2 linked regions of the Homo sapiens genome follow. The protein of the gene in region 2 purifies or fractionates together with the protein of the main gene of each other region. This does not show direct contact. Each region holds a gene or a part of one and is shown on either strand. Other genes may lie near its edges.

Region 1 (3,500 bases), on a different chromosome or scaffold from region 2:
TTTTAATTCAAACTTAAGGGCATTGTAAGAAAATTAAATAAATTCTTCAAATTGTAAGTCAAAGAAATTTACTTTGGCTTTGTCTTACCTGTTTTATGTTGCTGTAACAGAATACTACAGACTGCATAATTTATAAAGTAATTTATTTCTTACAGTTCTAGAGGCTGGTAAGTTCAGGGTCAAGGAGGCCTCATCAGGTGAGGGCCTTTTTGCAAAGTCATTCCATGACCGAAGGTGGAAGGGCAAGAGAGCACACTCAGAGAGTAAGAGACAAGAAGGGGGCTGAACTTACTCTTTTATCAGGAACTCATTCCCAAAATAGCTAACTCACTTCAGAGATAACAGCGTTAATCTGTTCATGAGGACAAAACCCTCATGATATAGTCACCTCTTAAAGATTCCACCTCTCAACACTGTTGCCTTGGGGATTAAGTTTCCCACACAAGAACTTTGGGGGAAACATTCAAACCATAGCAGACCATGTGTTGTAAGTCATTTTGGGAAAGAACATGATATTTATTTAGTATTTATTCCTACTTTGGCATCTTTCATTCAGATGTTTCCACTAAACAGATATTCATTTATCTGGAAAATGAGAACTAAAGTCTGTTTGGGCATCAGTTTCATCCACATGATTTCTCAGTGACAAAAAATTAGCACAGTTGCTAAATACTTCTCTCTACTATTTCCTTTTGGTTGCAAGTCTTCAGGTTATTTTAGATGAGACTACTTCGTATTGTTCTAAGTTCTCAGTGATTCTTTTTTTTAATTCTGTATATTGTCACAAGGTATAGTTGCCTTATATATACGTACTCTCAGGTAAAGTGGGAAAATGGCTTAATTGATAGCTTAGATGTTCTTATCTATTGACCATTAATAGGAACCTCAGAACATTCCTACTTAGGAAATTTTTGAGGACTGATTTAGAAGTAATGTGTAACAAATGAAATGTTGTTAGTAATTGGTTATGCTACCATAATGATGTGGTGTGCACACTGGTCTCCAAAATAAGGAAGAGGTGGAAAGCACCCTCTATCTCATTTATTTCAGGGCCACATTTTAGTTACTCTGTTTCATAATTGCATAGATTTGGAGAGTAAGTTAAATACTTAAACTGCCTGTAAAGGAAAATCTTTGATAAGCAAAATGGATTACAAGTAATTGTAGTATAGGCGAATCTATAGCCCGAGGGCCATATTTAGGCTATCGCCAGTTTTTGGCAGACTTTTAAGCTGAGAGTCGTTTTTACACCAAGAGAAAAGAAAATTTCATGACACATTAAAATTACATGAAATTCAAATTTCAGAAGTTTTATTGGAGTATAGCCACTCCCGTTTGTTACATGTTGTCTGTTACTGCTTTTGTGCTACAACACAGGGTTGAGTAAGTGTGCCCACAAAGCCTAAAATAGTTACTCTGTAGCATAAATGTTAAGAGCCTAACATATTTATAAGTAATTAGTTAATTATAAATCAGTATCTAGTTACGTAAATTGCTAACGTACCATTTCCCATTTTGTCAATGCTGGGTCACTTTGGTCTTCAGTGATTAGCTTTCCTTATAAAAAGGCTATAGTAATAAATGATGACATTAATAGAAATAGATAATGTTAGTTGAAGTGATTTCTTAATTTACATAATTTAGCAGGTTCTTTTGAACAGGGCTCTCCAACCCCTAGGCCACACAGCCTGGCTTGTTAGGAACCAGGCTGCACAGCAGAAGGTGAGGAGTTGGATAAGGGAAACCGGGCTCCACCTTCTGTCAGATTAGGTGCGGCATTAGATTCTCCTAGGAGTGGGAACCCTATTGTGAACCACGCATGCAGGGGATCTAGGTTGTGCACGTCTTATGAGAATCTAATGATAAATGTAATGCACTTGAATCATCCTGAAACCATCCCCCCACCCATCTGTGGAAAAACTGTCTTCCACAAAACTGGTCCCTGGTGCCAAAAAGGCTGGGGACTGTTGCTTTAGAACATTTTCTTTGATTTTGTTTACCTATCCTAATATGCTTTAAACACATTCTTGACTGTTATAGTAAATATAGCAGGAAGCTTTATCAAATATTTTTAAATGTGTAAGTTTTACACAGATTCTTCACTGTTTTAATTTTACAGAAATCCCGGATAAAACAGAACGTCTTCATGCCTTGAAAGAAATTGTTAAGAAATTTCATCCTGTAAACTATGATGTATTCAGATACGTGATAACACATCTAAACAGGTATTTTTATTTTTTTAGGGTTTTTTGGCAAATAAAATGCACTACACATTTCAAACATGTAAATTTTATAAATTGGATAATTATCAGATAGAAAAGGGGACTCAGACTAAACATATAGTTGAATTTTGTTTTTCTAATTTATATCTAAAAAGATATATGATTAGTTTTGTAATGTAATTATTATATAAATAGTAAGTGTGGTAAGTATATTTTCCTTTTTACCACATTCTCTGTAAAATCTTAGAATTTTAGATATGAAATGACACTCAGATAACTAACCAGATTGACCTATTTGGAGTTGGAACAGGGTTTGGTTTGAAAAATTACTAGTTCTGTGACCTTGGGTAAATGACTTATTCTTCCTAAGTCTTGATTGTCTCAACTATAAACATGAAAATAACAACACTTCACAAAGTTGTTCTGAGGACTGAATGGAACTATTTTAGTATATGTACTAATTTTTTGAAAAGTCTCCTCATAATATTTTCTACTGGCATTTTAATGAACTGTATGGTTTTTTTTGTTTTTTTTTTTTTTTAAACTAATAGTATCAACACCCAAACCAAGTACATTTCAGCTGGTACCTCCTAAAAGAGGATTCACCAATGTTTAAAGCTTACTTTTTACTAGCAATGTGGTATAAAATTGTATTAACATTTCTTATAACCTTTCCCTGAGAAAATACCATGGAAACATGGTGAAACCCCATCTCCACTAAAAATACAAAAATTAACTGGGCGTGGTGTGAGCATCTGTAATCCTAGCTACTCAGGAGGCTTGGGGCGGGAGAATTGCTTGAGCCCGGGAGGCGGAGGTTGCAATGAGCTGAGATCATGCCATTGCACTTCAGTCTGGCCAACAGAGCAAGACTCTGTCTCAAAAAAAAAAAAAAAAAAAAAAAAAAAAAAAAAAAAAAAAGATTGTTTTATGGAATGCTAGCAGCCAGGTTTTTTTTTTTTTTTTGAGATGGAGTCTTGCTCTGTCGCCAGGCTGGAGTTCAGTGGCATGATCTCAGCTCACTGCAACCTCCGCCTCCTGGGTTCAAGCAGTTCTCTTGCCTCAGCCTCCCGAGTAGCTGGGATTACAGATGTACACCACCACACCCAGCTAAATTTAGTATTTTTAGTAGAGACAGGGTTTCATCATGTTGGCCAAGATAGTCTTGATCTCTTGACCTTGTGATCCGCCTACCTCGGCCTCCCAAAGAGCTGGGGTTACAGGCGTGATCTACCGCACCTGCTGCAACCAGGTTTTCTGAAAGTTAAAAATTCTCAG
Region 2 (3,500 bases):
AGGACCAGGCTTAGGCCTTAAAAAGATCTAGCAGCTTCTGCTTTTGAGCTTTAGAAAGCTGGCCACCCCATAAGAAGTCTGGCTATCTTGTTGGGAGAGAGAGTGGCTATGGGGGGAGGGAGTGGCTATGGGGAGAGGGAGTGGTCATGGAGAGAGGGAATGGCCTTTGATATCACATAGGGAGAACCAAGGAACTCAGCCAACAATGAGAACAAGGCCCCAGACAGTGACCCCAGTCAACAGCCATGCCAGCTAGCCCTCAGCCATTTGAGTTATCCTAGTTATGAGTGAAGAGGCCATCTTGGTGTTGCAGGCCTAGCTGACATCTTGTGGAACACCAGTGTTGTCATCCATGTTGTTCTTTTGCCCAATTTCCTGACCCATGGAATTGTGAGAAATAATAAAATGTCTGTTCTAAATAAGCCACTAAATTCTCCTGAAGCGGATTTTGTAACACTAAGTAGTACTATCTAAATATTTAAGTTTGTTCATACTAACATTCTAGAACATTTTAAAAAATTCAGCCTTGAGAACACAGGAGTGTTTACCTGACATATTCTTTTTTATTTTCTTCATTAACAGGGATACTTTTGCCATTTGGTTTAAGTTCATGCTGAATAATTTCACCATATGCATTATGTTCAACACAGAAGGTATGGTCCAAAACACCTGTAATATCATTCTCACTGGATAGGAAAGAGGAAAAGATATGTAACTGGGAAACCTAAAATACAGACCCTATAGATGTATTAATTGGTGAGATAAAACTAAGATCATTTTATAATATAACAAATGTGAGGTCAGATTCTGCTTCCATACCACCTAGTTCTTTCTGGACAGAAAAGTCAAAGAGCTTTAACCTTCATAAACACAGAAAACATTTAACTTCCTGAGTAATGAGAAAGAGCCTTGGTCAAAGCTGGGCCTTGCTAGAACCACCAATATAGGACAATTTCAGTTACATTTGGCATTCTGAAGAGCCCTACTCGGTACTGTACTCCAAGGGGCCAAGTGCCTGTGTATCCCTAGTGAGAAAGCTACTGTATACTTTATAAAAAATAAACATTGCCAGTGTATCTTCACAAAATAATGACCTCTTGCAAAACAGAATCAGTTCTTAGCTTAAATTCAACAATTAGTTCTTATTCTAAAAGTACGGTTCCAACAATCGCCACTTCATTAAAAGCAACAGCAGCCAAGAATTTGCTATTCTAACACACGCAGGTTTGGAACAGAATTTGTATCACATTGAGGAAACAATTATATAAAGTACTTTTAAAAATAGAAATATACTAGTTGTTTTTTCCTTTTTAAAGTAGTAACACTTGCTAAGTTTAAGGAATTTGAAATGTATAAAGAAGCTACAGGAAAGGGGGAAATCATATGCGATCCTATCACTCAAATAACCACTCAATATTTTCTGTGTAATTTTTTTAAGTACATCAGTTTTGAAACATATTTTTTTTTAAAGCTCAGAGTTTATAATGAAGAGATAGAAGACTCAATACATACAGTATCCACACTAAACTGTTGTGAAGATCCGGATCTACTAACTCCATGTCATCCAAGGTAATTGACTTCCCAAGCAATTGCTTATAAAAAGGCAATGTGAAACCACCATCAATATAATGTCCATGAAACACAGCCATTCCCATTATTCGTCCAACAAAGTGGAAATAGGATAAATGTTCCTGAAATTGAAAACAGTATATATACTCGTTAGGCACTACCCAGGAAAATTTTAATAAAAATGAAATATTTCAGCAACATTAATCTTTTTGAGAATAAGCATAAAATTTTTACTCTTCAATAGAGTCAGGAGGGAGTATTTCTCTAGGGCATGCTCCAGAGTCTCTAGATCACCAGAGAACAGCATATTACACAGGGTAATATGCCCTTCTCGCAGGGGCCAGTCATTTTGTAAATTTTATCTTTTAGAAATTAAGTCCAAACTATGGTCCCGGAGCTTCATTCAACTACTTGCAGATCCTTTTCTCTTCCTTCTCTCACCTCCTGCTGAGCCCTTTGTCATGAAAAAAAATCTTTCAATCCTAAACCTCCCTACTTCCTTGACCTAACCAGAAATTAAACATCAAAACACCATAGATTTAAGAGCACAGACTTGGTGTCAGACTTGAATTAGAATCACGATTCTGCCAGTCAATGGCATATGGACAAATTAACCCCCGTAAGACTAACTGTCCACATCTGGAAATATGAGGATAATAACAGTATCTAAAAAGCATCTCTATGAGGAGTAAAATGAGGTGATGTTTGAAACCCATGGAACTGGACCTGGCATGTTATAAGCAGTCAATGAGTCTGGGCTATTGTTACTACAGGGGCAGTAGTGGGCCCTCCAAAAAGAACCTTCACCTCAAAATCCTCCCTAAATAACTTCTTGAAACAAATCTAACATTTCTACCCTTTTATATATATTTGGTCTTTCGTCACAGATTGTTTTGTTAGATGTTTGTATTTTTAAATTCTTTTACCTCTCTATTTACTAAGTAATCTTTTAAGCTCGTCTTTAAACCTTTTATCTTGTTTTTGTTTCTTTTTTAAAAGTAACACACGCGCACGCACACAAACATATATATTTACCAAAGTTGCATTATACTATTTGATAACCTTCGTTTCACTTAACACATCATAAACACCATCTTTCCATATCATTAACTATTATCCCACATTATCATTTTAGTGGCTGTATAGTATGCCCTTATATGGAAAGACAATATAAAAACAATACATTAGTAATAACTGCTAACTTCTGTTGAGTGCTTAGTAATGTAGTTGATAGAGTTGTAGAGTGAATAACATACAGCACTGTGCTAAGTGCTTAATGTGCAGGGTCCCATTTCATTCTCATAACCCCTCTTTGAGGTACAAATGTATTTATTAGCAATGACAAAACTGAAGCTTAAGTCCATGAACTTGCCCTGAAAGGTCACAAAGCTAGTAAGTGATGAGACCACGACACGTCTTTCTAATTCCAGAACCTATGCCTTTAATCATTTGCATTATTCTGCTTCATGTCATAATTTAATCAGTCCCCGCTCCTGAAGACAACTATGTTGTTTTCAGTTGAGTGCTACTATAAACAATAAACATCCCTGTTTCCAAATTGGTGCATATATCCATAATCATCTGCTTGGGAAAATTTTATAGAAGGGGAATTGCTGAGTCAAAGGGCACAACTAAGACAAGGACAAATAATTTCTATATAATAAACTACATTAACATGTAAACATGAAAAGCATTATTGGTCACAATTCACATCATAACTTCAAATCATACCGGATTAACTGCAGAATCAGGATTGATCTGCAATGTATAAATATCATCTCTTGAATACTGGAAGAGGCCATAGTATGGATTCAACATTTCATGTGACAAGAGATACAACCATTCCCTAGAAAACAAGATATGACCAAGGAATTTTTTTGTTAATGTATACATTTTTATTAAGATATGTCATTAACTAATCATTTTAGCAA

What was found. Proteins that work in one complex are often made in the same cells at the same time.
Region 1: the proteins of SMURF2 (region 2) and ARHGAP5 purify together in Homo sapiens (affinity purification with mass spectrometry; 2 studies listed by BioGRID and IntAct, with this or other methods). This does not show direct contact.

What each region holds. Positions count from the first base shown.
Region 1 is NC_000014.9:32,150,304-32,153,803, forward strand, and holds part of ARHGAP5 (rho GTPase-activating protein 5), read left to right. Parts: intron 1-2,119; coding exon 2,120-2,225; intron 2,226-3,500. UniProt on the Homo sapiens protein: GTPase-activating protein for Rho family members.
Region 2 is NC_000017.11:64,554,308-64,557,807, forward strand, and holds part of SMURF2 (E3 ubiquitin-protein ligase SMURF2), read right to left. Parts: intron 3,416-3,500; coding exon 3,301-3,415; intron 1,692-3,300; coding exon 1,513-1,691; intron 687-1,512; coding exon 549-686; intron 1-548. UniProt on the Homo sapiens protein: E3 ubiquitin-protein ligase which accepts ubiquitin from an E2 ubiquitin-conjugating enzyme in the form of a thioester and then directly transfers the ubiquitin to targeted substrates.